Linked DNA regions of Homo sapiens. The protein of the gene in region 1 purifies or fractionates together with the protein of each later gene. This does not show direct contact. Each region holds a gene or a part of one and is shown in the gene's direction. Other genes may lie near its edges.

Region 1 (2,657 bases):
TCTTCTATGTTACAGTCTATTACTGTGAAAATGATCTAGCACACAGTTGTTTTTGTAAATGGTTTTCCTCACAGCACTTCAGCATTTCCTGGGTTGTGCAAAGGGTCCCTCACATCCAGACTAGTTAAAGAATGCCTGTAATCCCAGCACTCTGGGAGGCCGAGGCAGGTGCCTCACCTGAGGTCAGGAGTTCGACACCAGCCTGGCCAACATGTTGAATGAAACCTTGTCTCTACTAAAAACACAAAAATTAGCGGGGGTGGGGGGGTGGGGGGGTGGGGTGCATGCCTGTAATCCCAGCTACTCAGGAGGCTGAGGCACGAGAATGGCTTGAACCCACTAGGCAGAGGTTGCAGTGAGCCAAGATTGAGCCATGGCACCCCAGCCTGGGCGACTGAGCAAGACTGTCTCTAAAAAACAAACACAAAAACATGCACTGTGGTACCTGCACATGTGATGATGTGGCACAGGAAAACTTACAATCAAGTGTAAAGTACCCAAATGGAAATGGAAAGCAGCTGGGAAGAGATCAAAAAATAAACCCTGTAGGCCAACATGGCATGTGTCTCCTCTCCTCCTCCCCCCAGCCCCCCACCATCACTCTTGAAGTCAAACACATAGGCTTTTATTTTTATTTTTTCCAGTTGGAACGATTTTAGTGGAACTAGACTGGAATAATACAAATAATAATCTTAATTTTTTTTTTAAATCCACTAATCTTTAAAAACTGGCCAAAGGTCTCCTCCTCTGCAAAGCTTTTCCTGCTCCACTCTGTCCCAGGCACCCATACACACTTCCATTATAGCGCTTATCCTCTAAGGTCTTTGAGGATAAGGATGACTTCCCATTCATTTTGTATGCCCCAGTGCCTGTAAGTTACTATATTCTCAATAAATCCTGGTTTCCTCATCTGTAGAATATGTTTAGATAACATCATCTCTAAGGTATCTTCTAGATCCAACATTTTTTGTCTCTGATTCAAAGTTTTAATAATTTCCCCTACGGCAGGACCCGGATGTAATCAACACCGCTTTGCCGATAGAATATGGTCCACTTGTGGAAGAGGAAGAGAAAGTGCCTGTGAGGCCCAAGGACCCTGAGGGGGTTCCTCCTCTCCTGGTCTCTCAACAGGCAAAACGGGAGGAGGAGCGCAGCCCAGCTGCCCCACCACCTCTGCCTACCACCTCCTCTGGCAAGGCTGCAAAGAAACCCACAGCTGCAGAGATCTCTGTTCGAGTCCCTAGAGGGCCGGCCGTGGAAGGGGGACACGTGAATATGGCATTCTCTCAGTCCAACCCTCCTTCGGAGTTGCACAAGGTCCACGGATCCAGAAACAAGCCCACCAGCTTGTGGAACCCAACGTACGGCTCCTGGTTTACAGAGAAACCCACCAAAAAGAATAATCCTATAGCAAAGAAGGAGCCACACGACAGGGGTAACCTGGGGCTGGAGGGAAGCTGTACTGTCCCACCTAACGTTGCAACTGGGAGACTTCCGGGGGCCTCACTGCTCCTAGAGCCCTCTTCGCTGACTGCCAATATGAAGGAGGTACCTCTGTTCAGGCTACGTCACTTCCCTTGTGGGAATGTCAATTACGGCTACCAGCAACAGGGCTTGCCCTTAGAAGCCGCTACTGCCCCTGGAGCTGGTCATTACGAGGATACCATTCTGAAAAGCAAGAATAGCATGAACCAGCCTGGGCCCTGAGCTCGGTCGCACACTCACTTCTCTTCCTTGGGATCCCTAAGACCGTGGAGGAGAGAGAGGCAATGGCTCCTTCACAAACCAGAGACCAAATGTCACGTTTTGTTTTGTGCCAACCTATTTTGAAGTACCACCAAAAAAGCTGTATTTTGAAAATGCTTTAGAAAGGTTTTGAGCATGGGTTCATCCTATTCTTTCGAAAGAAGAAAATATCATAAAAATGAGTGATAAATACAAGGCCCAGATGTGGTTGCATAAGGTTTTTATGCATGTTTGTTGTATACTTCCTTATGCTTCTTTCAAATTGTGTGTGCTCTGCTTCAATGTAGTCAGAATTAGCTGCTTCTATGTTTCATAGTTGGGGTCATAGATGTTTCCTTGCCTTGTTGATGTGGACATGAGCCATTTGAGGGGAGAGGGAACGGAAATAAAGGAGTTATTTGTAATGACTAAGCATGGGGAAAGACATTCTTTACTTGAAAAAGAAAAAATCATAGACAACTGAAATGTCACTTTAGGTGACGGTTAGATGCTTTTAATTGTGCTGATTCATCACCAATTGTAAAAAATGTCGTGAGTAGTTCCAGTAGTATAGCAGAAGTGTGTATATACTCATCTCAATGAAATGCATACATTCCAAGTGCTTTGAGTAGGATAAAGCACCAATACAGATCCAGAGATTCAAACATCCTATTAAATATACCTCATGCCTTAAGAAAATCCTCCTACTAGAAGTGAAAAACTGAGTGTGAGGTTTCCTACTGGATTTAAAACTCAAGATTTAAACTACTTATTTAAAAAATTTCCACTAATTAAATTTTGATCATTTAAAAGCAAAAATTTTAAGCAGCAGTGATACATGGAAGCATGGAAACATATCCATTTGTGGGCATAAGCGTCAATACATTTTAGGCCAAAACCTTCTATTCGTTTCAGTCATGGAATGAACTACC
Region 2 (3,500 bases), on another chromosome or scaffold:
TTTTGTGTTTTTTGTAGTGATGGGTTTTACCATGTTGCTCTGACTTGTCTTGAACTCCTGGCCTCAGACAATCCTCCCGCCTGGGCCTCCCAAAGTGTTGGGATTACAGGCAAGAGCAGCTGTGCATGGCCAAGTCTAAACTTCCTAATGTTCCATCAGTTAATGCCTTTTATGATCTGGCTCCATTCTATCACAGTTCTGTTTTCAAAGACATTTTTATTTCTATTTTTATACTTGCTGTTCTGTTAGCTTAAATGATAAGAGACACTCCAAACTCTCTTTTGCTCTTCATCTCCAGCTTTGCATTTAAAACTCAGCTCAAAAATCCCACTGTCGTGTGTGTGTGTGTGTGTGTGTGTGTGTGTGTGTGTGTGTGTTTTGGTAGAGATGGTGTTTTACTGTGTTGCTCAGGCTGGTCTCCTGGGGTTGAACAATCCTCCTGTCCTTGCCTCCCAAAGTGTTGGGATTACAGGCATGAGCCAGTGTGTCCAGCCTTAAATCCCACTATCTTGAGACCTTTTTCCATTCATCTAGATAAAAGTTAGTTTTTTTTCCTGTGCCCCCACAGCACTTTATCTTTGTTGTAGAGTTTTAAAAAATTCTGTTTAATATCTGCTTAGTTGGCTGGCTGCCTTTGTGTTTTCCCTACTAGATTGTAAGCTCCTAGAGGACAAATTACAGAGCTTATTTATTGGTGGTTTAATTTAAATACATTTTTTCTCTACAGATTAGTGCAAACCAGTCTGCACAGATGCGAGTTATATCTGTAAACTTGCTTGGTATTTTGGTTTACATACACTCTCATACTCTAGGATAGGGCAGGTAATTGTTTCGATTTATAAGGAGGGAATTTAAGAACCTCCTTCTAGCTTCTACTTTATTAGAATGAGTAGAGGATGCTGGGAGTCACTTTAGTGTGAATGGAATAAATTCAGACCTAGTGTTTATATTTGCCCTCTGTTGTGCTGATCAAGATAAATTCTTGGTGCGTTTGAATTAATCTTTAAAGAGAAAATTTTCTGAGCAGACATTATGTCAAACTTATTTCCCAACTCTGAAAAATTGTAGCTATTTTTGAAAAACCAGTTGGAAGTGAATGTTGCTTAATATTCACATATAAGATAATTTTAATTTTTTCCTTTATTTTGGACTTTTTTTGTGTGAATATCATTTTGTTGTTGTTATTTTGGTTTTGGTTGGCTTTGTTTTCTATAAATTTATAAGCTTTGAAGTGGGTGTTGGAAGCAAAAGTACCAAGCTAAAATCAGAAGCATTACTTGTTTGCAGTGATTTTGTTCCTTGAATTCCTGCACATTTAAATTGTGGAAGAACCTAGTGTTTTTTATGTATTTGGAAAGTAAAATTGATGTACATTAGAGGATAAATATAGGTAAAACTGGAATGTAAGTAAAATGGAAATGAGGTTAGTGAGAGGAACCGAAAATGGTAAATGATCTACACGCCTCCCTGCTTTTCTGTTTGCATTTTCAGTTGCATAGGGGCACTTTCACTGGGATATTTTATTGGCATTCCAAACTCAATTTACCTAACATTAAATTATTTCACCTTTCTTAGAGTCATTTTTTTTCTGTTACTGCTCTTTATTATTTTTCACCTGTTTGCAAGCATAATAGAGGCTAATGGTAGAAATTTTCCGTTAGTATAGAAAAGTATAAGAGATTAAAAGGCCCCTTAGGTCCAGCTACCTGATGAGATGATCACTCATGACATTTTGATAAATATTTTTCTAGACTTTTTTATGCATATATGCACAGGGATGTATGATTTTTCCATAAGCGGGAACATGTAACAATGCTGTCTTGTAGCCTGTACTCCACAGTACAGCATACCATTTTTATTAGTAGCTCCTAGTATTCTGTTGTATGGATATAGCATAAATTGTTTGGCTGAATCCACTTTGATAAATTCTTAGTTTTGTTTTTTTTTTAATTTTTGCTATGTGTGTATATCTAAAGCAAATTTTTTTTTGTGTATTTGTTCCATTATCTTTAGATTGAATTTCCTGGGGATAAAATTTTTGAGGCAAAGGTGGTATATACATTTGTAACATTGATACACTTTCAAAATGCCTTTCAGAAGGCTTTTACAAATTTACATTTCCCAACAGTGTGGAATTACCCATTTCCTGAGTCTCACCAACACTTGGAGTTGTCACATATTCCATTATTGGTTTTTTTTGTTGTTTTGTATTTTTAGTAGAGATGGGGTTTTGCCATGTTGGCCAGGCTGATCTTGAACTCCTGACCTCAAATGATCTGCCCACCTTGGCCTTCCAAAGTGCTGGGATTATAGTTGTGAGCCCCTATTGGTGCCTGGCACCATTATCGTTTCATTCATTTGCATTTCTTTGATATTTAATAAGGTTTAATATATTTTCATCTGTTTACTGGATATTTTAATTTCTTTCTTTTTTTTTTTTTGCTCTTGTTGCCCAGGCTGGAATGGTGCGATCTCGGCTCACCGCAACCTCTGCCTCCCGGGTTCAAGCGATTCTCCTTCTTCAGCCTTCCGAGTAGCTGGGATTACAGGCATGCGCCACCATGCCCAGCTAATTTTGTATTTTTAGTAGAGACGAGGTTTTTCCATGTTGGTCAGACTGGTCTCGAACTCCTGGCCTCAGGTGATCCACCCGCTTCAGCCTCCCAGAGTGCTGGGATTACAGGCGTGAGCCACCGTGCCTGGCCTTTTTCTTTCTTTTTTTTTTTTAATTGAGACCGGGTCTCACTCTGTCACCCAGGCTGGAGTGCAGTGGCACCATCTGCTCACTGCAACCTCCACCTCCCAGCTCAAGTGATCTCTCACCTCAGCCTCCCGAGTAGCTGGGATCGCAGATGCATGCCAGCATGCCCAGTTAAATTTTTTATTTTTGGTAGAGACAGCGTTTCACCGTGTTGCCAAGGCTGGTCTCGAACTCTTGAGCTCAAGCAGTCTGCCTGCCTTGGCCTTTCAAAGTGCGGGGATTACAGGTGTGAACCACTGCACCTGGCCAGATGTTCTAATTTCTTGATTTTTTTTTTTTTAAATTAACTTGCAAGACCTACTTGTGTGTTATAGCTACTAACTTGTTTTTTTTTTTTTTTGCGGCATTAGCAAGTATTTTTCGTGAGCTTGTCTTTTATCTTTTAACCTTCTTTATGTAACGTTTTATTTTAGGACTAGGTTTTTGATTTGTCTCTGTGTGTGTGTGCACACGTGTGTTTTAAGTGGTAGTAGTTTCTCCCAGGTACCTAGTGTCAAACTTTAGTAGTACTTTTATCTCTTCATAGTTGTAATGAACTTCTTGTTCTGTAAAGTTTTTTCTTTTTTTTTTTTTTCCAGTGGTCTTTTGGTCCATACATTTATCTTGGAATGCTTTGTTAGTTCTGCTTGCTTTTAGATTTCTCTTTGAGCCCCTCCTGTTCTCTGCATTCAGATTTAAAATACCACTTTCATTTGATCATTTTTTTTTTTCTATAAGATACTTACAGAATCAAATACTT
Region 3 (3,629 bases), on another chromosome or scaffold:
GTACATTTCCATTTATGTCCTCACTGGCAAAAGTCATTAAGCTACATCAGCAAAGGCAGAATGACCTGGCTCACCTGCGAGACGGGCCACCATAAAGTGAAGTCAAAAATAAAGCAAGGTTGGGCTGGGCATGGTGGCTCACGCCTGTAATCCCAGCACTTTGGAAAGCCGAGGCGGGTGGATCACCTGAGGTCAGGAGTTCGAGGTCAGCCTGGCCAACATGGTGAAACCTTGTCTCTACTAAAAATACAAAAATTAGCTGGGCATGGTTGCGGGCGCCTATAATCCTGGCTACTCGGGAGGCTGAGGTGGGAGGATTGCCTGAGCCCAGAAGTTTGAGACTAGCCTAGGCAACATAGTGAAACCCCATCTCTACAAAATTAAGTGGGCTTGGTGGTGCATGCCTGTAGTTCAAACTCCTCAGTAGGCCAAGACAGGAGGATTACTTGAGCCCAAGAGGATGCAGTGAGCTGGGTTCACACCACTGCACTCCAGCCTGGTGACAGAGCGAGAGACTGTCTCCAAAAATAAAACTTTTTAGAAAAACAACAAAAAAAAGTCATTAAGAAAGTAAATTTTAAGTTATGTATATCACAATTTCTAAAAATAATGATTTTTAAAAGAGTAGAGCAAAGTTGTGGGTTTGCCAGCCTTAACCATTCCCTGTGATTGCCTGGATAGACATGGGCCATATCCGTGCTGAAGGGGGCCAGGCTCATGGACTTCCCAACAGATTCCACCCCAGAGAACGCACAGGCTATTAGTCATGATAGCGAATGGCCAGAAGAAGCAGGTGCATCTCATTCCCAGGGCAAGAATAGTTGTTCTCAACATCTGTCCCAAGCTCCAGTGATGTTCCAAGGACCCAACAGGCCAGCCTCAAGCACTCTAATTACTTGTGACAGAACCACATCTAATACGTGGGTTAGTCATTTGTGATAAAATAAAAATTTTACCTTGTTTTTAGCTATCAGAACTATTAAACCATGTCTCACCTTCCACTGCAGATTAAAATTGACTTAATATTTTGCACATAAAAATCAAAACTTTGATCTAAGCTTACCCTAAAGGACATTCCCAGTTCTGCCAGTAGGAAACTTTCCCTGACCTGTGGTCTGAGCTGCCATTGACCTCACAGCCCCAGGGCCCCTTGGAGGGTGGGAGGGGCCTGGTTCTTCATTTCGCTTCTCTGTGTTCATAGCACTTTCTGTTGATAATGGTTGTTCTCAATCTTGGGACACTGAATTGAACACCATACTGAACAGCATGTATGAAATAGATGTTTGCTTTCCCTTTCTCTGTTGTTTGGTTTGGTTTTGGTTTTTTTGCCATGAAAACCAATGGACCAAGTGGTCTGAAAGGAGTCTGTCCCAGTCTGTGCTGTCTAAAAAAGCCCAAGATACTTACTAATAAAATTAACAAGGGCAGGGGACTGACAACAGCCAAGAACGTTGATAAAAGAACAGGAATATGTAATTGTGAAATTCCTTCTCTCTTCCCATCCCTCCGCTCACACCCCCTCACTCCCTCTCCCCACCACCCTCCCTTATCCCCACCTTGTGTTCCATGAAAACTGAAGAGGCAGAGGTCAAATTCAGGTGGATCACTTTTTCAAAGGTTGCCAACCCTGCTTCATGTAAACCATTAGAAACATTAGATCCCATTTGAATGTCTACAGTCGTAGTCTTTCTGTGAATTTATGAATTTATATTATTATTAAGCTGAGGACACAGGATCACAGCCATGTTCAATGAGAGCTGGGCATGGTCATCTGTAGGCATTGCCTCCATTTAGTGTCTCTGCAAACACCAACTTTGCCATACGCAGATCACGGCCTAGATAACAAAAGTGAAGATCATGAACTTAATGGCTGATTTTTCTTCTCTTTCTTTCTTCCCTTAAACTCTGACTAAGAAATCACCATTTGACTGCAGCAATTTCGACAAAGAATTCTTAAACGAGAAGCCCCGGCTGTCATTTGCCGACAGAGCACTGATCAACAGCATGGACCAGAATATGTTCAGGAACTTTTCCTTCATGAACCCCGGGATGGAGCGGCTGATATCCTGAATCTTGCCCCTCCAGAGACAGGAAAGAATTTGCCTTCTCCCTGGGAACTGGTTCAAGAGACACTGCTTGGGTTCCTTTTTCAACTTGGAAAAAGAAAGAAACACTCAACAATAAAGACTGAGACCCGTTCGCCCCCATGTGACTTTTATCTGTAGCAGAAACCAAGTCTACTTCACTAATGACGATGCCGTGTGTCTCGTCTCCTGACATGTCTCACAGACGCTCCTGAAGTTAGGTCATTACTAACCATAGTTATTTACTTGAAAGATGGGTCTCCGCACTTGGAAAGGTTTCAAGACTTGATACTGCAATAAATTATGGCTCTTCACCTGGGCGCCAACTGCTGATCAATGAAATGCTTGTTGAATCAGGGGCAAACGGAGTACAGACGTCTCAAGACTGAAACGGCCCCATTGCCTGGTCTAGTAGCGGATCTCACTCAGCCGCAGACAAGTAATCACTAACCCGTTTTATTCTATTCCTATCTGTGGATGTGTAAATGGCTGGGGGGCCAGCCCTGGATAGGTTTTTATGGGAATTCTTTACAATAAACATAGCTTGTAACTTGAGATCTACAAATCCATTCATCCTGATTGGGCATGAAATCCATGGTCAAGAGGACAAGTGGAAAGTGAGAGGGAAGGTTTGCTAGACACCTTCGCTTGTTATCTTGTCAAGATAGAAAAGATAGTATCATTTCACCCTTGCCAGTAAAAACCTTTCCATCCACCCATTCTCAGCAGACTCCAGTATTGGCACAGTCACTCACTGCCATTCTCACACTATAACAAGAAAAGAAATGAAGTGCATAAGTCTCCTGGGAAAAGAACCTTAACCCCTTCTCGTGCCATGACTGGTGATTTCATGACTCATAAGCCCCTCCGTAGGCATCATTCAAGATCAATGGCCCATGCATGCTGTTTGCAGCAGTCAATTGAGTTGAATTAGAATTCCAACCATACATTTTAAAGGTATTTGTGCTGTGTGTATATTTTGATAAAATGTTGTGACTTCATGGCAAACAGGTGGATGTGTAAAAATGGAATAAAAAAAAAAAAAGAGTCCTCTTAATCGTTTACTTCCCCGCTTGCCCCCCACAAGAACTTGCTTCTGCTGTGTCAGTCCTCAAAATGTAGCTAGCATTGAGATGATGTTTTACAGTTGGGGGATTGGCTGGGCACGATGGCTCACGCCTGTAATCCCAGCACTTTGGGAGGCCAATGTGGGCAGATCACCTAAGGTCAGGAGTTCGAGACCAGCCTGGCCAATATGGTGAAACCCTGTCTCTACTAAAAATACAAAAATTAGCCAGGCGTGGTGGCGGGGGCCTATAATCCCAGCTACCTGGGAGGCTGAGGCAGGAGTAGAGTAAGACAAAGGGTGAGGAAGTCAGATGACATTAAGGCAATTGTAAGAAAAGCAAGTCTGCATAATATTCGGAGTCACTAGCCTACCTCATCACATGGCTGGAAATAACTTTAGATATTATATTTAAAATAGAATAATTAATATAAGCAGACTGTTGACAGTCTGCAGGTGTGCTGGAACATTTTCCTGAC
Region 4 (3,500 bases), on another chromosome or scaffold:
AGCTTGACCATTGTCTTGAGGAGAACAAGGAGCCTGTGTTACCCTCCACCCAGCCAGGCTGCCCAGATCCACTGAGGGGTCTTCCTGCATGCCCCCTCCTTACACTGGCCAAGCTTCCTGCCCACCCCAAGGACGTCTGCTTCCTAAAGCACTGCTTGAGTACCTGAGAAAAGTGAGCACTCGGCTGCCATGGGAGCCTCCCCCCGCACCCCAGGATCCTCAGGCCTGACCTTTCCTCCTCCTCTCCAGCCATTGGCACAGCATATGCGGTACTCAGCAACCCGGAGAAGAGGAAGCAGTATGACCAGTTCGGCGATGACAAGAGCCAGGCGGCCCGGCACGGCCATGGGCATGGGGATTTCCACCGTGGCTTTGAGGCCGACATCTCCCCTGAAGACCTCTTCAACATGTTCTTTGGCGGCGGCTTCCCTTCTAGTAAGTTCCCCACCCTCCCCACAGCCAGGTATCCCTGGGGTGATGGTGGGAATGGCATGCCAGCCTCTCCCTTTCCCAACAGACCTGGCTCCTGACTCAGCCCCTCTGACCCCCAGGTAACGTCCACGTCTACAGCAACGGCCGCATGCGCTATACCTACCAGCAAAGGCAGGACCGCAGGGACAACCAGGGTGATGTGAGTGAGGAGGGCGCCAGGGACAGCGCGGGAAGGGCACCAAATCCACCCCAGGGAGGGGGCTTGGAGGAGGGTGTTCCCTCCCACACTGTCCATTCTGGGACCAGCAGAGTCCCCATAACTCTCAGCCAAGGAGCCCTCTGGGCCTCCCTTGCCATTCTGCTGAGTGACACCAGAGGGCGCCACACGAGGGAGCCATGCTCCACATTGCCGGCGGGAGCGCGGCTTTGCTGGCCTGGCTGGGGAGTGGAACCAGAAACCCCACCCACAGCCAGGTTTGAGTGTGAGGCTCCCATGCAGACCGCTCGCTGGTAAGGCCAAAGTGACATCCTCTAAGCAATGGAAAGTTACACTTTGTGAGAGAATTTTATTTTATTTTTCATTTTTTTCATGGGTCTCAGCTATTTTCTCTCAACTTTGTGAGAGAAATTTCTTTTTTTTTAATTGAGATGGAGTCTTGCTCTCTCGCCCAGGCTGAGTGCAGTGGCGCGATCTCGGCTCACTGCAACCTCCGCCTCCCGGGTTCAAGCCATTCTCCTGCCTCAGCCTCCCGAGTAACTGGGATTACGGGTGCGTGCCACCACCCCCGGCTAATTTTGTATTTTTAGTAGAGATGGGGTTTCACCATGTTGGCCAGGCTGGCCTTGAACTCCTGACCTCTGGTGATTCACCCGCCTCAGCCTCCCAAAGTGCTGGGATTATGGGCGTGAGCCACTGCGCTCTGCCACTGAGAGAATTTTAAAGGATGACAACATAGGTGCCGACTCTTCTTGCTAAAAAGCCAAAAGATACTTTTAAAAAGATATTTACAAAAATTTGGGAGGCCAAGGTGGGTAGATCACCTGAGGTCAGGAGTTTGAGAGCAGTCTGGCCAACATGGTGAAACCCCGTCTCTACTAAACATACAAAAATTAGCTGGGCGTAGTGGCAGGCGCCTTTAATCCCTACTCGGGAAGCTGAGGCATGAGAATCACTTGAACCCAGGAGGCAGAGGTTGTGTTGAGCCGAGATCGTGCCACTGCACTCCATCCTAGGCAACAGAGCAAGACTCCGTCTCAAAAAAAAAAAAAAGTATAAAAATTATAACTAGACAGTGCTTCAAACACATTTTGTATGCCACAGATCAAAGAACAGCTAGCTGGCTAAAATTAAAATATTGTGGACAATTGCAAAACATTTTAAATTCTGGCCAGGCGGAAGGGGTTTCCTTTTGCTCTGACAATATTTATTCAATTTTTTTTTTTTTTAATTTTTTGAGATGGAGTCTCGCTCTGTTGCCCATGCCGGAGTGCAGTGGCACAATCTTGGCTCACTGCAACCTCTGCCTCCCAGGTTCAAGTGATTCTCCTGTCTCAGGCTCCTACGTAGCTGGGAGTACAGGCGCCCGCCACCACACCCAGCTAATTTTTGTATTTTTAGTAGAGACGGGGTTTCACCATGTTGGCCAGGCTGGTCTCGAACTCCTGACCTCGTGATCTGCCTGCCCCTTCCTCCCAAAGTGCTGGGATTACAGGCGTGAGCCACCATGCCGGCCTTTTTTTTTTTTTTTTGAGACAGGGTCTCGTTCTGTCACCCTGGCTAGAGTGCAGGAGCCTCCCCTCCCAGGCAAAGCTCCCACCTCAGGCTCCCCAGTAGCTGGGACCACAGGCCCACACCACCACACCCAGCTAATTTTTTGTATTTTTTGTAGAGATAGGGTCTTACTTTGCTGTTTGAGCACAGGCTGGTCTCAAACTCTTGGGCTCAAGTGGTCCTCCTGCCTCAGCCTCCCACAGTGCTGGGATTACAGGCATGAGCCATTGCCCCTGATCAAAATTTTTTTATTTTGTATCTAACAACAGAAGAGTTTAACATCACAGATTATCACACAGTGAATATATTTGTTAATTTTTATTTCTAATTCTTCTTTTTTTGTTTGTTTGCTTTTTCTGCACCCTAGAACCAGTGCTATTTCTAATTTTTATTTTGTTTTAATTATTATTTTTTGTAGAGATGGGGGTGTATGTTGGCCAGACTGGTCTTGAACTCCTGGCCTCACGTGTTCCTCTCATGTTGGTCTCCCAAAGTGTTGGGATTACAGGCATGAGCCGCCACACTGGCCATAATGTTTAAATTGGTAATATATTTGTGTGGTTCACATCTCAAAAACTTGTATATACTGCATGTCTCCTTCCAGCCCTGCCTTCCATTCTCCTGGAGGAAGCAACTTTTGCTGATTTTTTTTTTTTTTTGGCATTCTGTCAAAAGTAAATGCAGACACCTCACTTCCTCCTGTATTTCACACCAGTTGCTGCTTTGTTTTTATCTGGGAAAGCTGGCAGGTGAAGGAGCGTCTGTGTTTTGGAGCCTCGTGGAGGGAACGGCAGAGTGGTGTCATGTCTCCCCAGGCTCCACTATTCTAGGGGAGCTAGTGGTGATTATGGCTGACACCACACCCCACCCAGGTCCAGCAGAGTGACATTGGCTCTTCCCTCCAGGGCGGGCTAGGGGTGTTTGTGCAGCTGATGCCTATCCTCATCCTGATTCTCGTGTCAGCTCTCAGCCAGCTCATGGTCTCCAGTCCACCCTACAGTCTGAGTCCAAGACCGTGAGTACATGGGTGAGGCCGGGCCATGGGCAGACAAGGGGCTTTAAATTCTCAGCCCCATCAGGGGCCTTCTTTCCCATCCTGATCCAGCCAGTGTGCGATCATAATGCAGAAACCTGGCTTCGAATCAAGAAAATATACTTTCTCTATTCAACTAGGACTCTTAAGCTTTTTAGGATTATGGTCCCCTAAGAAATTGCAGCGAGAGCTACAGAACTTTTCCCTAAAACTATGCACACATGTGCACACACACATACACACACACGATACACATGTACACAC
Region 5 (3,500 bases), on another chromosome or scaffold:
AAATCTGCACTTTGTTTCAGGGGGTTTCATAGCTTTCGTGGCATTTTCATTAAAAATCTAACAGGAGTGAGATGTTGGAGCCCCCACAGGTCATTTTTTCCAAACTTCCTGAACCAGACGCAAGACTCCCAGCAATGTGTATTGGGAGGAGTGTTAGCACTCTGGAGGAGTCCGGCCTGGATGCAGATCTCAGCTTTACTGCTGCTCACAGAGGCACTTAGGCCGGCCACTCTGGGCCTGAGGTTCCTCATCTCAAGAGATGTGGCCAGAATTATAATCAAAGAGGCATCCAAGGGCTCACCACACACACAGCCCGATGCATGTGAATTCTTTGTGGTCAATTAACTTGGCTGGCCTCAGGGGTGTTGGAGATTGGGGACAGGATAGGAGGACATGGAACAGGTGTACTTGGCAGGCTGAAAGCACTGTGAGTTGAAGTCAAGGGGAGAGGTCCAGGCGCAGTGGCTCATGCCTGTAATCCCAGCGCTTTGGGAGGCCCAGGCGGGAGGGTTGCTTGAGGCCAGAAGTTTGAGACCAACTTGGGCAACATAGCAAGACCTCGTCTCTACAAAAGATTAAAAAAAAAAAAAAAAAAAGCCTGGGCAACGTAGCCAGACTCTGTCCCTACTAAAAATAAAAAAATTAGCTGGGCATGATGGTATGCACATGTGGTCCCAGCTACTCGGGAGGCTGAGGTCAGAGGATCACTTGAGCCTAGGAGTTGGAGGCTGTGGTGAGACATGATTGCACCATTGTACTCCAGCCTGAGTGACTGAATGAAACCCCATTTTTTTTTTTTTGAGACAGAGTTTCGCTCTTGTTGCCCAGGCTGGAGTGCAGTGGCATGATCTCAGCTCACTGCAACCTCCGCCTCCCGGGTTCAAGTGCTTCTCCTGCCTCAGTCTCCCGAGTAGCTGGGATTACAGGCATGTGCCACCACGCCCAGCTAATTTTGTATTTTTAGTAGAGACGGGGTTTCTCCATATTGGTCAGGCTGGTCTTGAACTCCCGACCTCAGGTGATCCGCCTGCCTCGGCCTCCCAAAGTGCTGGGATTACAGGCATGAGCCACCGCGCCTGGCCTGAAACCCCATTTCTTTACAAAAAAAGTGGGGGAGGCCAGATGTGTACATGTTTGTGCTCTAAGCAGCCAGGAGCTGCTGTGGCTGGTGCATGGTCTGAGCACATGTGGGCTGCTGCCCTGATGGGTATAAGGCAGACCCTCCACTCCACCAGCCCACCCGGCGGGGACATCAGCCAGAAAGATGGTAGCCATTGAGTTCTAGCTATGTGGGCCTTGGTTTCCTCACCTGCAAAATAGCCCTGATGATCTCAAGGGTCCTTTCCCGCTCTACAGCTCTTCATTTTGGGCGGCTCCCTAACTGATGTGCTACAACGTGCTGTGCACTTTTCTAGGGACCATGTTGTAGACGCACTTGGGGGCCGTTTCGTGTGGTTGACCTTCATTCTGCTTTGTCGTCTGGCATCTCCCTTTGGGCCAGCCCTCAGCCTAGGGCCTGGGCACCAGTCCCTTTCTCATCTCTCCCCCAGGGGATTTGGGAGCAGCTTGTCTTACACAAGGACGAAGGAAAAGGTCAGGGATCGAGTGGAAGAGATGTTCTTGGTGTGTGGCCGCTCAGGGAGGTGGAAAGAGCATTGAGAAGTGAGCTGGGTCCCACCGAGCTTCTTAAGAGTTGGGACTGAGGCATCCTCTCCCGGAAGAAGGGCTGGGGCTGCGGGGAGGGGACCCACCTGCCCCCCTCATCGCAGTGCTTTCTCTCTTGCAGGTGTGGGCAAGAGCAGTTTACTGTTGCGTTTTGCAGACAACACTTTCTCAGGTGAGTCCTCCCCTGCAGTGCTGCTGGGGTGTCGTTTTTGTTTGTTTGTTGACATCCCCTCCCTGGCACCAAACAGAGTTGCCTCTGCCTGATGTTGGGAACTGTCTCATTCTGGTTGCCAGAGGAGGGAAGAAGATGGAGTGGGGCTTAGGACCTTGTGGCGCTTCTGTCAGAAGCCTCTGTGGTCTGTCTAATGCACCTGCTCACGAAAACCCTTTGGCTGGCCCATCATTTTCCCACCCATGGTCCAAACAGGAAGGTTCCCATAACAGCGTCTATGGTGCCACCCGGGACACAGTCCCTGCTCCTGCCCCCTATGCCTCCCTGGCAGCCTGTGGTCAGCGTGTGTCTTTCTGATTTCTTTCTGCGCTCCACATGCAGGCCTTTGTGGTTCATCTGAGTGCGGTGGGCTTTCTGTGCTTGAAGGCACCACATGGTGCACTGACGCTGCTGTTACATCGTGCCTGACTTCTGGTTGTGTTTTCAGCGATGCTTAGCTACTTGGGATATAGGCGATATTTATTCTTTTTTTTTTTTTTTTTTTTTTTTTGAGATGGAGTCTTGCTCTGTCACCCAGGCTGGAGTGCAGTGGCGCGATTTCGGCTCACTGCAACCTCTGCCTCCTGGGTTCAAGCAATTCTCCTGTCTCAACCTCCCAAGTAGTTGGGACTATAGGCACCTGCCACCACGCCCGACTAATTTTTATATTTTTAATAGAGATGGGGTTTCACCATGTTGGTCAGGCTGGTCTCGAACGTCTGACCTCAGGTGATCCACCCACCTTGGCCTTCCAAAGTGCTGGGATTACAGGCGTGAGCCACTGCGCCCAGCTGATACTTATTCTTGTGCACGTGTTTCTGTAGAAGTGGGGTTACTGGCTTACAGGGTGTATGCACTGAGAATTTTCATAGGTACTGCCAACCTGCTTTTCAAAGAAGCTGGAGTCATTTAATCCAGTCCCACTGAAGGGTGGAAAGTGCCCCTTGTCAACCCTGGTCAGTGCTGGATCTTAGTAGCTGTCTTCATTCTTGCTGAGCTGATAGGCAAAAAGGGCTAACTTGTTTACATTTGTATTTCCCTAATCACTGGTAAGATGGAACACATTTTTGTTTGTTAAATACATCAGGTTCAGCCGGGTGCGGTGGCTCACACCTGTAATCCCAGCACTTTGGGAGGCCGAGGCGGGTGGATCATGAGGTCAGGAGTTCGAGACCAGCCTGACCAACATGGTGAAACCCCGTCTCTACTAAAAATACAAAAATTAGCTGGGCGTGGTGGTGCATACCTATAATCCTAGCGACTGGGGAGGCTGAGGCAGGAGAGTTGCTTGAATCCGGGAGAGGGAGGTTGCAGTGAGCTGAGATGGCACCACTGCACTCCAGCCTGAACGACAGAGCGAGACTCCATCTCAAAAAACAACAAAAAAAATCAGGTTCATTACAGATGCTTTGGGTGGGGTTGACATCTCTGATTATCTTGTGGAGAATTCCCTCTGACATGGCTGGGCTGCCTTTAGAAAGTGATTCCGTTGGCCAGGCGCGGTGGCTCACGCCTGTAATCCTAGCACTTTGGGAGGCCGAGGCGCGTGGATCATGAGGTCAGGAGATTGAGACCATCCTGGCCAATATGGTGAAACTCTGTCTCTACTAAAAATAAAAAAATG
Region 6 (2,781 bases), on another chromosome or scaffold:
CTCAATGCAGGAGATCGCTCAGATCCAGACTCACGCCAGTGAGACCTCTGTCATCCTGTCCATGGACAACAACCGGGACCTGGACCTTGACAGCATCATCGCTGAGGTCCGCATGCATTATGAGGAGATCGCCCTGAAGAGCAAGGCCGAGGCCGAGGCCCTGTACCAGACCAAGGTGGTCACCGAATGGGTCTCCTCCCACAGCAGCCCTTCGCTTCCTGGGAGGGGTCACCTGCACAGTGAATGTGAGGAATACTTTTGTGGGCATGCTGAATGAAAGAAAGGTTCCAACCAAGGCTTCAAGGAAAAAAGGAATTCTTAGCAGAGCTTGTTATCAAAGATAAATCATGAAACTGGTATGGATTGAATATATGCAACAGAGAGGATCCCTCACTTCTTTCCTCCATCCACGAACTGCCTGTTCCTCTCTGTTGCAGGTGAAAGAAGTGAGGTGGTAAAACAAACACACTTATAGGAATGGGGGCATGTTGCCACAGGGCAGAGGGAGAATCACAGACTTGCGGGAGTGTAGCCATGGGTGAATTTGGTGGGGGGCGAGTGAGAGAAGGAGAAGCCTGTAGCTCTTTCCTGATCCCCACGGGAAGACTTTCAAAAGGAAATGGAAGGCGAGGAGTGCTCTGAGTAATGGAACTATGCTTTGGGTAAACTGAGTAATGGAACTATGTTTGGGGCTGTCAGGGAGAAAACCCCTTACCTGGGCCCCCAGGACCCTGTCCCAGCACTCCTCTTCAGTTCCGTTAAATCCCACCGACAGCCAGGGTGGCAGGGGTGGCTTATTTACAGGACCCTTCCCCAGTGCCCTTGTCTCATCACCAACTTCCTATCTCTGGGAAACCAGATCCAGGAGCTGCAGCTGGCAGCCAGTCGGCATGGTGACGACCTGAAACACACCAGGAGCGAGATGGTGGAGCTGAACCGGCTCATCCAGAGGATCCGGTGTGAGATCGGGAATGTGAAGAAGCAGGTGGGCAGCAGCCCCACAAAGAACTCCCGGTCTCCACAGCAGGCTCTGGGATGAGGAAATGGGGCCTGCCCTTTGGGAACAAGCAAATATCCCCTGCTGGGCTTAGGGGTCCCTCGGCCACCCACAGTCTCCCTTTCCCACCCTGCCTCGGTACCCTACCATCAGAGCTGGTACCCCGCCCAGAACTGGGAGGAGCCTCAAACCTATTTCTCTGACTCCTCATTTTGCAGATAAAGCAACTGGGCTGGGAAGGGGAAGGGACTTTCCCAGAGCCCCCAGCTGGTAATGAATGGAGCTAGGATTAGAACCCAGGTTCCCCTTCTGCAGATTTTTTCTGTGTCCAATGAACCTGCCCCATGTCCCCTTTGGGTGCCCCCTCTGAGGGCAGACCCTCTGTCTCCTCCTCCCACTGGACATGGAACATGTGTGGGGTGCAGAGGGTATGCATCAGGCGCCTCTGTTGGCCACACCAGGTTCCTGCTCTCGGAGTGGGGCATGGTCTGTTGACTGAGGGACACAGCTGTCGATGAAGCCCTCCTGGGTTCCCTTGCCCTGTGCCATGGTACTACTTCCATGTTAGTGGGCGGGGGGGTGGGGGTGGGGGGCCTGTCTTACCTGACAGCAGCAAATTTTAAACACTGCGTCAGTGGGGAGATGATATTGGAGGCTGGAGGATCCTTCCTGTGACCTCTCTGAGAACCAGGTCTGCTCTGCTAGTGATAGAATTGACCAGCGGAAAGATCTGAGCCTGTTCTCCTTCTGGTGCCCCCACAACCCTCCATGCTCTGCAGGCAAACACAGGGACAACTCTACGACTCTACATTTGGCCGATTCACAAATTCCATGAGCATAGTTCCTCCCTCTCTGTTAGCAACAGGCATCGCAATGCCCCCCAGATGTTCATCAGAGTCCAGCTTCTGAGGTTGTGCCTATAATTTAGGGCCTTATCCTCCTGCTCTAAGGGAAGGCCAGATGTGGGAGCCTTCACACAGACTCTCCCCAGAGTGCTGGAGTCCAGAAACACTCATCTGGATGCTAACAGATCAGAAGGATCCCCAATGGGGAGAGGTCCTGCAGCAGGAATCTGATCACAGTGGGACCGTGGCATACTGTCTCATCCTCAGGGCTGGCCTTGCTAGGGGATCGGGCATGATTTTCCTGAACCTGTAGTATTTTGAATCTGTAGATACTGGTGGCCTCCGGTCTCAGGCACTATCTAACTTTGCAAACATCGACATTTCTTCCTGACCTCCTGAAATGCAACTGCTTCCACAGCTTCATGTGATAACAGCTTTGAATACTCCTCTGCAATAGAAAATAGAAGAGACAAAGTTCTGGTGTTGGCTTTGCAGCTTTTACTCCTTGTCACCTAGGGCCCCATCTGCAAAATGAGGGCATTGTTCTACTTAACTGGTATGAGCTAAATGTAATTTTCTGTTCTGATGGTCTCTCTGTTCTTTGCCCTTCAGCGTGCCAGCCTGGAGACGGCCATCGCTGACGCTGAGCAGCGGGGAGACAATGCCCTGAAGGATGCCCAGGCCAAGCTGGATGAGCTGGAGGGCGCCCTGCACCAGGCCAAGGAGGAGCTGGCGCGGATGCTGCGCGAGTACCAGGAGCTCATGAGCCTGAAACTGGCCCTGGACATGGAGATTGCCACCTACCGCAAGCTGCTGGAGGGCGAGGAGTGCAGGTAGGTGGGGTGGAGGGGAAAGTGTGAGAAGGGACTGGGGTGTGGCTCCTGTCTGGCTGAGGGGCCACCTGGAGAACAACATGGTTAGTGCCAATACAAGCAAGAG
Region 7 (3,500 bases), on another chromosome or scaffold:
AGCCCAGGAGTTCCAGACCAGCCTGGGCGACATAGAAAGACTTCATCTCTACACAAAATAAAATAACATTAGCTGGGTGTGATGGTGCCTGCCTGTAATCCTAGCTACTTGGGAGGCCGAGGCAGGAGGATTGCTTGAGCTGGGGAGGTTGAGTCTTCAATGAACTGTGATTGTGCTACTGTACTCCAGCCTGGTGACCGAAATGAGTCTCTGTCTCAAAAAAGAGTATACTTGGCCAGGCGCAGTGGCTCACACCTGTAATCCCAACACTCTGGGGGGCCGAGGCAGGAGGACTGCTTGAGCCCAGAAGTTCAAGACCAGCCTGCGCAACATGGTAAAACCCTGTCTCTACAAAAAAATTAAAAAGCCAGGTGTGGTGTTGTGTGCCTGCAGTCCCCGCTACTTGGGAGACTGAGGTGGGAGACTCACCCAAAGCCTGGAGATTAAGGCTGCGGTGAGCCAAGATCACGCTACTGCACTCTAGCCGGGGCATCGGCAGTATCCTTATGACTTTTTGTAATCCCTTCTTTTGCTCCTTACTACCCTCTCTGTATCCCTAGGAAACCATTGTTTCCTTTCTGTTGCTTAAGATTAGTTTTTATTTTCTAGAATTTTATAAAAATGGAATTGTATATACGCTTTTTTTTTTTTTTTTTAGCACGGGGAATCTCCTTACACTCAGCATAATTTGAGATTCATCCATGTTGTTATGTGTTCATAGTTTTTTATTGTTGAATAGTATTTTATTTTATGAATATACCATGATTTTTTTTAACCCATTTACCCTTTGATGGACATTTGGATTGTTTTCACTTTTTGACTATTATGAATAAAGCTGCTATGAGCATTCATGTACAAGTTGTTGGAGAGAGATATGCTTTCTTTTCTCTTATATTAATGCCTAGGAGTGCAATAGCTAGATGTGATAGGGAAATATTTTTTCCCAGTTGTTGGCTTGTCTTCATTCTTTAAACAGTGTGCTTCAAAGAGCAGTTTCTATTCACAGACAACATGTCTGTGACTCTTCAAAAAAGCTCTAGTGAATAGGTTAATTCAGCAGAGTTGTAGCTTAGAAGGTCAATATACAACAGTAAATTGTATTTCTATATACTAATAATGAACAATTAGAAACTAAAGTGAAAAATTCCCATCTCATTAGCACTAAAAACCATGAAATACTTAAGTATTAACTTTTCAAATGGTGTGTAATATTTGTATGTTGAAAATTATGAAACACTGATTATATCATGTTCATGGATTAGAAGACTCAGTATTAAGATACCTACTCTTCTCAAACTGATTTATAGATTCAGCACATTTCTAGTCCAAATCTCAGAGGATTTCTTATAGAAATTAATGAGCCGATTCTAAAATTAATATGGAAAACCAAAGGAACTAGAAAAGCTAAAACAATTTTGAAAAAGAATAACAAAGTTGGAAGATTCATACTACCTGATTTCAACTTAGTTTAAAGCTGCAATAACCAAGACTGTGGTATTGGAGAAAAGATAGACATACAGATCAATTGAACAAAATAGAGAATTTAGTCACACAAAAATTGTCAATTCATTTTGAAAAAGTTTAAGGGCAGTTCAACAGAGGATAGTCTGGAACAGTTGAATATTCATATGCAAAGAAAAAACAATCTTTGTTTTATTTGGGCACCAAGTATCCACTGTTGGACACTGGGCAGTCCCTTGCCCAGGAATTTATGTGAATATTGGGACAAGTGACATGAATCCACCAGTGGATATGAAATAAAGTTTAATCACACAGTAAACAGCAAAAGGACTCCTCAAGGTCAAGGACTTAGGTTTAGTCCAGGATGAAGCAAGAGTGAAACAGGGTGGGTGGCTTTGGTTTTTATTGACCAGAAGGTGGAACTTGTTTGATGGTCCCCATGTGTGGTATTTACATGGTTTCAACTTCACACCAGTACCAAGGGAGGGAATACTGGTCCCCAAGTGTGGTATTTATATGGTTTCAACTTTACACCAATACCAAGGGAGGGAGTACCTGGGCTTTCTTACAGACTTACCCAGATGTGGGACAAAAGGGAGAGAGGTGTGGGACCTGAAGGCAATCTGCACTCAAACATCAAAATGAAATCTTTTTATTAGAGCCTCAATCTGTACTTGACACTGTATGCAAAAATTAGTTCAAAATGGTTCGTAGGCCGGGTCTGGTCGCACACGTTTGTAATCCCAGCATTTTGGGAGGTTGAGGCAGGAGGATTGCTTGAGCCCAGGAGTTTGAGACTAGCCTTGGCAAGAGTGAGACCCGTTTCTATTTTAAAAAATGTTCATAGATTGTGAAGTAAAATGTACAGCTATAAAATATTTGAAAGAAAACATAGGACAAAAATATTTTTGACCATGGGTCAGGCAGAGATTTCTTGGACATGATGCCAAGAACATGATTCATAAATGAACAAACTGATAAATTAGACTTCATCAAAATTAAGAAATTCTGCTCTTCCAAACACACTGTTGAGAGAATAAAAAGACTTCACAGACTGGGAGAAAATATTCCCCATCACATATCTGACAAAAAATAGACTGTATAAGGAACTCAAAGCTGGGCATGGTGGCTCACGTCTGTAATCCCAGCACTTTGGGAGGCCAAGACTGGAGGATTGCTTGAAAATCCAGGAGTTTGAGACCAGCTTGGGCAACATAGCAAGACCCCATCTCTATTAAAAAAAGTAAACAACCTAATTAAAAAGAGCAAAAGATTTGAGTAGACACTATGCAGGAAGGTGTATGAACAGCAGATAAACACCCCAAAAGGTGTTAAACATAGGCCAGGCATGGTGGGTCATGCCTGTAATCCCAGCACTTTGGGAAGCTGAGGTGGGTGGACCATCTGAGGTCAGGAGTTCAAGACTAGCCCGGCCAACATAGCGAAACCGTCTCTACTAAAAATACAAAATTGGTCAGGTGTGGTGGCACGTGCCTGTAATCCCAGCTACCTAGGAGGCTGAGACACGAGAATCACTTGAACCCAGGAGGTGGAGGTTGCAGTGAGACAAGATTGTGCCACTGCATTCCAGCCTGGGCGACAGAGTGAGACTCTGTCTCAAAAAAAAAAAAAAAAAATAAAGGCATTAAACATCATTAGTAATTATGGAATTGCAAATTAAACCCATAATGAGATAGTACTATATGTCTATTGTGAAAATTAAGATATTAAGAGAAACTAAGGAAAAAACGGCAATACAAAATGCTGGTAAGAATGGGAGCAATGGAAACTTTCATCCTTTGCTGTTGGAAGGGCAAATAGTGTAGCTACTTTGGAGAAACGTTTGGCAGTTTTTTATGAAGGTAAATATATACTTGTCATATGACCCAACATTCCCGCTCCTAGGTATTTACCCAAGTGAAATGAGAACTTAGGTTGATTTCCTCTTTTTTTTTTTTTTTTTTTTTTTTTTGAGATGCACTCTCACTCTTTTACCCAGGCTGGAGTGCAGTGACACAATCTCGGCTCACTGCAACCTC

What was found.
Region 2: the proteins of ALK (region 1) and CDK13 purify together in Homo sapiens (affinity purification with mass spectrometry, with the first as the bait; one study listed by BioGRID). This does not show direct contact.
Region 3: the proteins of ALK (region 1) and PRKCQ purify together in Homo sapiens (affinity purification with mass spectrometry, with the first as the bait; one study listed by BioGRID). This does not show direct contact.
Region 4: the proteins of ALK (region 1) and DNAJB12 purify together in Homo sapiens (affinity purification with mass spectrometry; one large-scale study listed by BioGRID and IntAct). This does not show direct contact.
Region 5: the proteins of ALK (region 1) and RAB35 purify together in Homo sapiens (affinity purification with mass spectrometry, with the first as the bait; one study listed by BioGRID). This does not show direct contact.
Region 6: the proteins of ALK (region 1) and KRT74 purify together in Homo sapiens (affinity purification with mass spectrometry, with the first as the bait; one study listed by BioGRID). This does not show direct contact.
Region 7: the proteins of ALK (region 1) and P4HA1 purify together in Homo sapiens (affinity purification with mass spectrometry; one large-scale study listed by BioGRID and IntAct). This does not show direct contact.

Annotation. Positions count from the first base shown.
Region 1 is NC_000002.12:29,192,274-29,194,930, reverse strand, and holds the end of ALK (ALK tyrosine kinase receptor isoform 1 precursor), read left to right. Parts: intron 1-1,008; coding exon 1,009-1,707; 3' UTR 1,708-2,157; downstream 2,158-2,657. UniProt on the Homo sapiens protein: Neuronal receptor tyrosine kinase that is essentially and transiently expressed in specific regions of the central and peripheral nervous systems and plays an important role in the genesis and differentiation of the nervous system.
Region 2 is NC_000007.14:39,956,756-39,960,255, forward strand, and holds part of CDK13 (cyclin-dependent kinase 13), read left to right. Parts: intron 1-3,500. UniProt on the Homo sapiens protein: Cyclin-dependent kinase which displays CTD kinase activity and is required for RNA splicing.
Region 3 is NC_000010.11:6,426,648-6,430,276, reverse strand, and holds the end of PRKCQ (protein kinase C theta type), read left to right. Parts: intron 1-1,914; coding exon 1,915-2,070; 3' UTR 2,071-3,129; downstream 3,130-3,629. UniProt on the Homo sapiens protein: Calcium-independent, phospholipid- and diacylglycerol (DAG)-dependent serine/threonine-protein kinase that mediates non-redundant functions in T-cell receptor (TCR) signaling, including T-cells activation, proliferation, differentiation and survival, by mediating activation of multiple transcription factors such as NF-kappa-B, JUN, NFATC1 and NFATC2.
Region 4 is NC_000010.11:72,337,920-72,341,419, reverse strand, and holds part of DNAJB12 (dnaJ homolog subfamily B member 12), read left to right. Parts: intron 1-249; coding exon 250-435; intron 436-551; coding exon 552-631; intron 632-3,108; coding exon 3,109-3,218; intron 3,219-3,500. UniProt on the Homo sapiens protein: Acts as a co-chaperone with HSPA8/Hsc70; required to promote protein folding and trafficking, prevent aggregation of client proteins, and promote unfolded proteins to endoplasmic reticulum-associated degradation (ERAD) pathway.
Region 5 is NC_000012.12:120,106,754-120,110,253, reverse strand, and holds part of RAB35 (ras-related protein Rab-35), read left to right. Parts: intron 1-1,786; coding exon 1,787-1,837; intron 1,838-3,500. UniProt on the Homo sapiens protein: The small GTPases Rab are key regulators of intracellular membrane trafficking, from the formation of transport vesicles to their fusion with membranes.
Region 6 is NC_000012.12:52,568,063-52,570,843, reverse strand, and holds part of KRT74 (keratin, type II cytoskeletal 74), read left to right. Parts: intron 1-10; coding exon 11-175; intron 176-859; coding exon 860-985; intron 986-2,454; coding exon 2,455-2,675; intron 2,676-2,781. UniProt on the Homo sapiens protein: Has a role in hair formation. Specific component of keratin intermediate filaments in the inner root sheath (IRS) of the hair follicle.
Region 7 is NC_000010.11:73,086,867-73,090,366, reverse strand, and holds part of P4HA1 (prolyl 4-hydroxylase subunit alpha-1 isoform 2 precursor), read left to right. Parts: intron 1-3,500. UniProt on the Homo sapiens protein: Catalyzes the post-translational formation of 4-hydroxyproline in -Xaa-Pro-Gly- sequences in collagens and other proteins.